Linked DNA regions of Homo sapiens. The protein of the gene in region 1 purifies or fractionates together with the protein of each later gene. This does not show direct contact. Each region holds a gene or a part of one and is shown in the gene's direction. Other genes may lie near its edges.

Region 1 (3,656 bases):
AGTAACAACAGAACCAATCTAGTTCTTAACTGACTTAATGTTTGAGGGTATAACAATGATCTGGTCTAGCCCTATATATCAGTTTCATCTTGTTGCCTCTTGTCCTTAAATTGAGGGCACAGAATAAATTTCCTTAAAAGGCTCTATCCCCAAAGACTTCTTCACTTCTAAACCCTTAGCCATCACCACACTAACAGACTCTTAACACGTTCCTCTTGGGGGTCAAATAACTTCTCATTCAGCCTGTCTCGTATCACAGTCATCATTTCCCCAGTAAACCCAGTTCCATTTCTAACATCCCTGTTTTTGCTAATGGTATCATCATTCTAGTCACCCAGTCTCAAAACCTCAGCTGATCTGGGATTATTTCCCCTCTTACCTCCCTAAATGAAAATCCGTCATTTACTGTAAGTAAATTCTTAAATAACTAAGTAAATTCTTTTTAATGTCTCTTTTGTCAGTCTCTTCCATTCTTATTGCTACCATCCTAGTTCATACATTTTTGCCTCATACCTATGCTGTTAAATTTTTTTCCCGACTACTCTTTCTGTTTCCATTTTCTCTTCAGTCAAGTCAGCCCTGTACTGTAAGCATTAACTTTCCTAAAACTATGCTTTTGTTATGATTTTCACCAGGTTAAAAATGTTGAGTGGCTTCCCATTTTCTAAAAGGTAAAGTCCAGTTGTGTTGGCTGAGATTGAAAGTGCTGTACATTTCTTTCCAACCAGCATTTTTTCAGTATCTGAACCAGACACTGCTAGTGCTAAGTGTGATCAAGTTGAATAGACAGAGTAGTTGTTCAGATGAGTTCAGAGTCTTGTGAGACAGAAGACAGATATGTAAACAGATGAATTGATGTAATAGAATGTGATAACTGCTCTTGAATTACGAATGTAGATACATATCCATTATGCATTTAATTTAATGTAAAAAAATAGCTGTGATATTTTCAGGAAACCCATTTCTCAGTCATCACAAGTTAAAGTTGTGACTTGATTAAAACCTGTTAAAATTCAGTGGAAGCAAAGGTATGCGTTTACCTGTATGCTAAAGGCACAAAAAACTAATCTAAGCAGAAGGCTGGCCTTTTCTTTTCCCAAGTATTGTGCAGATACAATTGGCTTGAACATGTCTCTAAACTGACTTTCCCAGGAACTGGCCAGGCCATCTCTTTCTTTTTGGTGCAGATCAACCTGCCAGAAGTCAGAAGTAAACTTGTTTTGGTTTGTAAATTAGACACGTGAATGATAGACAATGATGACCCATTGGAAAAGGAAAACTTCATTATCCTTGCAGATGAAACCAAAAAGTATGCTCTTTAAGGATGAGAAATGAGAAGCTGACCAGTCACTAACTCATTTAAACCATGCAGCCTCCTGTTACAGTATGTATTGTTATGTCCATTTTATAGCTAAAAAACTGAAGTTCAAAGGTTAAATGGATGAAAGAGCAAGTGGCAGAGCCAGGATGCAAACTCAGCTCTGTCAGATTCCAAAATCCATGTGCTTTCCACTATAACATACTGTCTCCCAGCAGAATTACTGTCCCTGAAGAACCATAGAACAACAATTGCCAGGCTTGTTGTTGGAAATATTCAACTGATACTCAATTGTTAAATTTTTTTTAAGTCAGTTATCTGTCTTAGAAGACAAAACAACATCACGAGTTTTATTTCTGCTAGAGGATTATTTGAAGTTTTTTTTGCAGTTCAGATAAAGTCAGGTTATGGGCATCGCTAAAACACAGATTCCTTAACTGTTTGATGGTTAATCCTTCATACCATACTCTGGAGTTTCTCCCCAGTGTGGAATCTTAGTGGAATCAATGACGTCATCATCCTACATTAGCATTTGAAGGGTTTGCATTCCAGGCTGCCTCTAGAATTGTGGCCCATGAATCATCTTACTGAAAATAATCAATCTACATGTTATTGTTCCCTTGTGGTATTTTACAAGTTATGGTGGCATTATTTCAGAAAAGCAAAAATTTAGGGGACTGATGGACAGATAGACAATAGAGACGGTCAGATACATATTTGATTGAAATCATGTTACAATTTCATTTAAATGAAATAAAGCCATCTAACAAATTATATAGAAATGATTCAGCCGGGTGCAGTGGCTCACGCCTGTAATTCCAGCACTTTGGGAGGCCGAGGTGGGCGGGTCACTTGAGGTCAGGAGTGCCAGACCAGCTTGACCAAAATGGAGGAACCCCGTCTCTACTAAAAATACAAAATTAGCCAGGCATGGTGGCACAAGCCTGTAATCCCAGCTACTTGGGAGTCTGAGGCAGGGGAATCTCTTGAACCAGGAGGCGGAGGTTGCGGTGAGGCCGAGGTTGCGGTGAGCCGAGGTTGCGCCATTGCACTCCAGGCTGGGCAACAAGAGCAAAACTCCATCTCAAAAAAAACAAACAAAAAAAATGTAATGTTTCAGTTTCCTGGTAATAATATTCTGATGTTAAAAGACATATCTTTTTTAAAATGTTCAATGATAAAAAATTTATTAATATAAAAGTTGTTATTCATTTTCATTAACATCCATTCCAGTAGCTTAACTAATGTAGTTCTAGTTTGGCCTTGTCTCAGATGAGAATACCTGAGATGGTGTAAACAGATATCCAGGTAGACAGACCTTTTGTTCTTGTTTTGAGATAGAGTCTTGCTCTGTCTCCCAGGCTGTAGTGCAGTGGTGCAATCTCAGCTCACTGCAACCTCCACCTCCTGGGTTCAAGCGATTCTCTTTCCTCAGCCACCTGAGAAGCTGGGATCACAGGTGTGCGCCACCATGCCCGGCTAATTTTTGTATTTTTAGTAGAGATGGGGTTTCACCATGTTGGCCAGGCTGGTCTTGAACTCTTTATCTCAGGTGATCTGCCTGCCTCGGCATTCCAAAGTGCTGGGATTACATGCGTGAGCCGCTGCACCCAGCCCAGACCTGTTTTTAATAGCTTTGCACTAATGTTCTCATTTGAGGGAAGAGATATCTGAATGTTTGTTTATGGGCATAAGGCTACTTCCTTCTTTTCTTCAATATACATATAAATCTTGCTGACATCATATATGAGAGACAGAGAAAGAGATGTGTACACACACACACTTACACATTCACACATTCACACTCACAGAGAGATATAGCAGAGTTGCATGAGTCTTAGAACTAAACAAAACAAAAACCTGATACCTATTATGTTGTCCCAGAAAGCGAATTAAACTGGATCTTAAAAAGACATGTATGCGGCCGGGCGCAGTGGCTCACGCCTGTAATCCCAGCACTTTGGGAGGCCGAGGCAGGTGGATCACGAGGTCAGGGGTTCGAGACCAGCCTGACCAACATGGTGAAACCCTGTCTCTACTAAAAATAGAAAAATTAGCTGGGCGTGGTGGTGGGCACCTGTAATCCCAGCTACTTAGGAGGCTGAGGCAGGAGAATTGCTTGAACCTGGGAGGCGGAGGTTGCAGTGAGCCGAGATCGCGCCATTGCACTCCAGCCTGGGTGACAAAGTGAGACTCCGTCTCAAAAAAAAAAAAACGTGTGCTAGACCTAGTTCTATTTAACTGTATTCACATTAACAACTCTGGCCTCAGTACTCATCTGTAGAATGAGAGTGCTGAATTAGATTATTGCTGAGGCTCCTTCCAGCTTTGTGAATCG
Region 2 (3,656 bases), on another chromosome or scaffold:
TTTTTATTTTAAAGGACAATTTGATAATGTCAACATTTAAAAACCAAACTACTAGATACACTAGTTAAGTTCACTTCATAGTATCTTCTCTCAGGAAATGTGCCTGCATATGTATACAGAGGAGAAAATACGAGGATATATATTGCTGTAGTTTCACACCCCTCTGCCATTGTAATTGGTCAGGGGAATACTCTGCCTCCACTATGAGAAAATAACCAGCTGTCTCAATAAATGTTATGTATTATTATATATTGTTAGAAAAGCAGGCTGCTGAACAATATTGTTTCTAGTTTAAAAATGCAAAGGAAAACTATTGTTTCTGTAGACATACAGTATGTGTGTAAACTTTGTAAACAAAGTTTTAAAGGATATACAGACACTCCCCAATTTTTCGACTTAATGATGGTGTGAAAATGATAGCTATTCAATATACCCCTCAGTTTATGATGGGACTACATCCAGATAAATATATCATAACTTGAAAACATTGTAAGCTGAAAACACACTGTTGACTCGATTATATTTACGATAGGATTATCTGGATGCAGCTGTGTTACAAATTGAGGAGCATCTGTACATCAAAATTTTATTGGTAACTTTGCCCAAAGGGGGTGGGATTGTGTAGGGTGCTCAAAGGGAACATTTCATTTTATCTGTGCCGAAATTTTTTACAAGAATGTATTACTAATTTGTATAGTTTAAAAAATAGATAACACTGTTTATCGGTGTGATTTGCCTAAATTGAAATAAAAGCAACAAATAGCATTTAGACTTAATTTTCCTTCATGATTTGAATAGAAAATTTGAGTCAGTTGTAGTAAGGAACTTCAGGCAGTCCTGAAAGTCAACTTTTTATTATTAATACAGAGAATAGCTTTGCAGATAAACAGATATTCACAGAAGTATATTAACATTTAACTTCTGATAGCTTTAAATGTGAAAATTACATCATGGCAAGATTTACATGGTATATAACCATCTGTTTGCTTATGTCATGCCCTTTTAAAACTTCTGAATAACTTTTGCAAGTTTCTTCTCAGTGTAGGACTTATTTCATTTAGTTATTTTCATTAATATATGATAGGTGTTAAAAAAACACTAGATGTGGTATTAATGCCAGACAGACTTGGTAATGGAATAAGCCTAGTGAATTTGTGTTTTTTAGTGATAGTAAATGGGAAGTTGGAATTACCCTGCAGAGAAAAATTTCAGAATGAAGTAGGATTTGATAATAATGGGTTGTACATATTTCTTAATAGGTATCTCAGGCCAGTATAGTGGCTAACGCCTGTAATTCAGCACTTTGGGAGGCAGAGGTGGGCAAATCATTTAAGCTCAGGAGTTTGAGGCCAGCCTGGACAACATGGTGAAACCTCACCTCTACAAAAAGTGCAAAATAGGCATAGTGGTGCACACCTGTGGTCGCAATTGTTCATGGAGACTGAGGCAGGAGGATCGTTTGAACCTGGGAGGTGGAGGTTATAGTGAGCCGAGATCATGCCACTGTACTCCAGGCTGGTCTGGAACTCCTGGGGTCAAGCCATCCACCCGCCTTAGCGTCCCAAAGTGCAGTGGTTCTTAAACTTGGTTGCACACTGGGAAAAGGAGGGGTGGGGGTGCTTAAAAATTATTGATGGCTTGATTCCAGTCTCCAAAATTCTGACTTTATTAGGGGAAGGAATGGGCATTGGTGTTTTTGTTTTTGTTTTGAGACAGAGTCTTGGTCTGTCACCCAGGCTGGAGTGCAGTGATGCGATCTTGGCTCACGGCAACCTCCACCTCCCAAGTTTAAGCAATTCTCCTGCCTCAGCCTCCCAAGTAGCTGGTACTACAGTCATGCACCACCATGCCTAGCTAGTTTTTTTTATTTTTAGTGGAGATGGGGTTTCGCCATGATGGCCAGGCTGGCCTCAAACTCCTGACCTCAAGTGATCGGCCCGCCTTGGCCTCCCAAAGTGCTGGGATTACAGGTGCGAGCCACCGCGCCTGGCTGGGCATTGGGATTTTTAATGTGCAGCTAAGATTGCATACCAATGCTTTGAACCCAGTCCTTGTCATCTGTGGTTGTCATGGCTCATTAGCAACAATTCTCTGGTAATTTGTTTTGGTATCTTATGTAAAGTGGTCTCTCCCAGTTTCCCTCTCCCTTTCCTTTGTGACACTTAACACAGTGTACTTTTGGCTTGGTTACTTGTTTGTGGTCCTTCTCCCCTCTACGGTAGTGGGAATGAGCCATCTTGTTCACCACTATATGTCCAGTTGCTAGCATGGGGCTGGTACAGATGGTTGAGCAAATGATTTTCTCACAGGTATGAGCCACAGTGCTTGGCCAAAAACATGTTTTTAAAAAGTCAAACAGGGCTGAGGTGAGGTGGCTTATGCATGTAATCCCAGCCCTTGGGAGGATGAGGGTGGAGGATCACGTGAGACCCCGTCTCTACAAAAAAGTTTGTGAAAATTAGCCAGCCATGGTGGCGTGTGCCTGTGGTCCCCACTACTGAGGTGGGAAGATTCCTGAGCCAAGAAGATCCAGGCTACAGTGAGCTATGATCATACTACTGCACTCCAGCCTGGGTGACAAAATGAGACCCTGTCTCAAAAAAAGAAAAAAAAAGAATCTTTGAGTGCTGCATTGTAGTTAGAACTCTGAAGGTAAGGAAGTAGATACCTGAATGTCCTGTTCGATTTTCATTGGTTTTATGTGACAGCTAACAATTAGTATTTAATTAGATGGCTATTTGATAGGTTTTTAAAAAACTCCTGGTATTGATGATAGGAATGCATATTTTTTCCCTAGGTAACAGGGTGAGATAGCTAATGGATTATAATCATATCTCACTTATTTTAATGGGTTCATAAATGCCTGCAATTTTATCTTAGACTGAGTCTGCCCCTTAAGCTACATTAAGTGTAAGTAAACAAATCTTTGTTAATATTGTTTAATGCCAAATGTATTGCCTTATTTTTGTCTCCCATCTGTAGGCTAAAGAAATCCTGACAAAAGAATCCAACGTGCAAGAGGTTCGATGTCCAGTTACTGTCTGTGGAGATGTGCATGGGCAATTTCATGATCTCATGGAACTGTTTAGAATTGGTGGCAAATCACCAGATACAAATTACTTGTTTATGGGAGATTATGTTGACAGAGGATATTATTCAGTTGAAACAGTTACACTGCTTGTAGCTCTTAAGGTAATTTCAATTTTATGTTGGGGCATGTTGAAATGGGTAAGACAGTCCTCTTGAAAGTTTTTTTTCCCCCAGTTATTTTCTCTATCTGAATGTTAAAACAAAATTCCACATTTAGGAATGCATATGTTCAGGTTTTGGACTTAAAAATCATAGGCGTCTGCGTTCTGAGTAAGGGGATGGTACAGAATCAAAACAAAAGGAGGAGAATGAATGCCTCAGTCAGATTGTTTGAAAAAATAGGCTGGGCGTGATGGCTTATGCCTGTAATCCCAGCACTTTGGGACGCTGAGGTAGGCAGATCACCTGAGGTCAGGAGTTCGAGACCAGCCTGGAGAACATGGTGAAGCCCCATCTCTACTAAAAGTACAAAAAACTAGCCGGGGGTGGTGGCGGGTGCCTGTAATCCCAGCTACTCTGGAGCCTGAGGCAGGAGAATTGCTTGAACCTGGGAGGCGGAGGTTGCA
Region 3 (3,656 bases), on another chromosome or scaffold:
TACATATTCCGTCTCACTCCTTGGACTGTTCCCCTCACGCCTACCTAAATGTGGCCACCTGGTAGTCAGTTTTCACGTCTCAATTTAAATATCGTTCGTCAGGGGAGCCTTGCCCGCCTTCCCAAAATCAGAATAGGTTTCCGCCATGTATTCACCATACTCTGTACTCCTTTGTGGCATCATCATAATAGAAACTTAATTATTTCTGTATTTATTTGACAAATACTGTCTCCTCACTGGACTATAAGCTCCCTGAGCAGGGCCCTCTCATTTGTCATGTTTTACCCCACTACTTACGCAGTACCTGGCACATTGTAAGGGTTCAGTAAATATTTGCTGAATGAATGAAGGAGTGTATTCATGCACAGTGCTTCCAGCACTTCTCTGGGGACAGAAATAGAGAAATGAATAAAGCGGATATGCTTTCTGGATTGAAGTATATAAGAACTTTCAAATGAGCCATAATGCTTAGGCAATTTAGGTTATATGTAAAGGAGTCATTGACAGAATTTTAATATAAATTGTGGAAAAATGTTTGTTCTTTTTGGAGGTCTCTGAAATCAGGATTAATTTTCTAAGTGGAAATGATAAAGGAATCACTTTCATTTGCCGCAGAATTGCTGTGTAACACAGCATTTTAGAGACTTATCACTGTCCTGCTTTTTGCAAGCGATATTCATTATAACAAAATATAGACATGGAAGAAACTTCTAATGGACTCTTCTTCCCTAATGTTGTCTCGTTTTGCCCTAAAAACCTTTATTTCCTCTAGGTAGTAGTATTAATACTGTTTTATAGCTGAAGACATCAAGAAAATAAGTAAATTTACTTATTAAACTAAAAAAAGTTTAATTAAATTGCTAGAGTTTCCAGAACGTTGGTACTGGAACCATGGTTAGAATCTGGATCTATCTCCGTATTCTAGAATCCATAATTTTTTCTTTTTCTTTGCTTTTTTGTTTTGTTTCTTGCTTTTTAACCTTGCTATCTTCCTATGAATTATACCTTTAATATCACTTGATTTAGACAAGGTGGCTTTGTAAAATTGAGTAGTTTTTGTTTCAAAGGAACTTATATTTTGGGTTTCCTGAAAATTTTTCTAATACTTTTCTAATCTTATTTGCTTTATAGCTGGAGACTTAAGCATAAAAAGATTATTTTTAAAACATACAAACTGAATTTTAGGGATAAATTGTGTTAGGTTTTGGTCTTGGAAACAAGTTCTGCAGTCATTTGTAGTACCACGGTATGGCATAGAGTAAGGTCAACAGCCCTGAGTTTCTGTAGCCTTGTATGCCTTCATGGATTTACCAGTTTACTCTTCCACAAGATCTTGTCAAAAAGAGATTGCTGATAATTTGGCTTTAAAATTTGGTAATACTATCCATTTTATTATTAAAAACAAGTCTTTGCTAAATCCTAAACTTACTTTTTAAAAAGTCAGTGTTGATGTTACTTGAATCTTGGATAAAATTTTCATATTTACCTAGCATAACCAGTATGTGGAGGATAAAACTGAAATACTGCTTTTTATATGTTGTTGGATAATTAATATCATTATGATAGGTGTTACTAAGAATTTTAAGCCACTTACATGATAAGTAATTTTTTCCATAATATAAACTGTAAAAGTGATTTAGAAGTTAAATGTCATTGTTATCTATGTTATTGCATTTGAAATATTATAGTAAGCTGCAGTGTTAGAGGGTTATGCTTTAGGGACACACACACACACACAATGCAAAAAATGAAAGCACATTTATTATAGCAATTAGAAATAATTTATGTGCTGAAAGATAAACACTGTGGTTTGATGGTTCATTTTTGTCTGTATGAAGATGGTAATTTCAATTTTGTCATTTAAGCTACAAAATTTAAATGTGTCTTAAGTGTATTATATTACACTTATTTTTCAAGCTCACCCTTACATTTTTGGTTATGTATAACCATTTTTAAAATCACCCAAAAGTGATTTTCTGCTGTTCAGTTTCATTCTTATACAGTTGATAGAATCCAGGTTGCCTATAGGGTTAAAAGAAAAAGAAAAGAATTTTATTAACAAGCTTATGAACTATTGGGTAACAGCAGTGGAACATGTTAAGTGGTAGTCACTAACATATACTTAGGCTGGTCCCTTGGGAATAAGTTTACCAGAGGTTAGTCTAAATAATGACTTTTTGATTCATTTACTTATTGAATGCATATTACTTGTGAAATTGCCTTAAACCTTCTTTGGAATGAACTGGAACCTAATATAATAGCTAGCATTTATTGAGTATTAAGTAACTAAGTGCCAAGTCTCATGCTAATAAGCATTTTACAGGATCTCTTATAATCCTTACGACAACCCTTCGAGGTAGAGGCACTATTATCTCCAGTTTTTAAATGAGGAAACTAAAGTACAGAGAGGTTAAGGAACTTGCCTACGGTTGCAGGAAAAATTGCTTGGAATTAGGATTTGAATCCAGGCTGGCTGACTCAAGAGACCATGTTTTTCATCATTATAGTAAAAATGATGTTAGTGATTGAACTGCATTGGAGAGAGAAATTAGCATTAAGAGTTGTAGTTACAGAGCAGTTATGTCTTAAATGCTAAGGTCAGTGTGGCAGGCAGAAATTACTTAATATTCAAACTTTTTAAAAAACCTATTAGGAAATACACGTTGTAGACTAACAACTTCAACACAGCCAGTTTTTTTCTAGCATTGGAGTAGATTTCTTTTGAGTACCAGGTGAAGTGTTTGACTTGTTATGCAGAGACCATATTGAAAAAAGAAATATGTATATTATAATACAAGAGTCACAATCAGTGTGGCAAGCTACTCTTTGTGAGAGCTCACTGTGGCTCTCAGTCTGGTGTGGGGAGTGGCAGATCCACGTTTCTTATCTGTCTCATTCTGGGACTTTTGCATAGGGAATGGAATTATCACATACTGCAGTAGTTATTTTTAGTGAAGTTATTTTTTTGTTTGTTTTCTTCAAACAAATGTTCACCATGTCTGTTGAACTTGCATAGGGTAGGAGTATCATGTGAAGCAGGTACGCTCCCTGGAGTGTTAATGCCAAGTGGCAGTGTGACATGTCACTGTATTTCTTTACTGTCTCTCTTCCCTGCCAAGACTACATACCTTCAAGGGTATGTGCTGTTTGACTTTTCATCACCATATCTCCAACTAACACTGTTGCTGACTTAGACTGACTATGCAGAATACTGTGTTGGATACTAGGAAATAGAGAAATGGATACAACTTCTCTTTAGGGAGTTTATACTTCAGTAGATACAAGGGGAAAGGGTTGAAAGACCATTGTATGGACATTTAGTCTTTCTAATATACTAAGTACTTCCATGTGCATCAGTTCATTTTACAATTTTAGGTTAGAGCTGATAGAAAAATAAATGATTGTTTCTCTAACTGCCATCTGGTCCCTGGCACTGAAATGGGTCTCCCTGTCTTATTCAGTCATTCTCTCTTACTTCAAGATAGACTGGAATTCAACTGAGATTGAAGTTATGGAATGACAAAACCCTAAGATGTTACACACCGGCTGCCTCCTCAGACTTATATAAGGTTACTACAACAGAAGCCAGTTGGGAATGTTAAATGAGTCAGACCTGGCCTCTAGACAGCAACTGCACCCTATACGAGTTTAGATTG

Evidence for each region.
Region 2: the proteins of CTTNBP2NL (region 1) and PPP2CA purify together in Homo sapiens (affinity purification with mass spectrometry; 4 studies listed by BioGRID and IntAct, with this or other methods). This does not show direct contact.
Region 3: the proteins of CTTNBP2NL (region 1) and PDCD10 purify together in Homo sapiens (affinity purification with mass spectrometry; 3 studies listed by BioGRID and IntAct, with this or other methods). This does not show direct contact.

The regions. Positions count from the first base shown.
Region 1 is NC_000001.11:112,402,664-112,406,319, forward strand, and holds part of CTTNBP2NL (CTTNBP2 N-terminal-like protein), read left to right. Parts: intron 1-3,656. UniProt on the Homo sapiens protein: Regulates lamellipodial actin dynamics in a CTTN-dependent manner. Associates with core striatin-interacting phosphatase and kinase (STRIPAK) complex to form CTTNBP2NL-STRIPAK complexes.
Region 2 is NC_000005.10:134,205,458-134,209,113, reverse strand, and holds part of PPP2CA (serine/threonine-protein phosphatase 2A catalytic subunit alpha isoform), read left to right. Parts: intron 1-2,982; coding exon 2,983-3,192; intron 3,193-3,656. UniProt on the Homo sapiens protein: Catalytic subunit of protein phosphatase 2A (PP2A), a serine/threonine phosphatase involved in the regulation of a wide variety of enzymes, signal transduction pathways, and cellular events.
Region 3 is NC_000003.12:167,728,293-167,731,948, reverse strand, and holds part of PDCD10 (programmed cell death protein 10), read left to right. Parts: intron 1-3,656. UniProt on the Homo sapiens protein: Promotes cell proliferation. Modulates apoptotic pathways. Increases mitogen-activated protein kinase activity and STK26 activity. Important for cell migration, and for normal structure and assembly of the Golgi complex.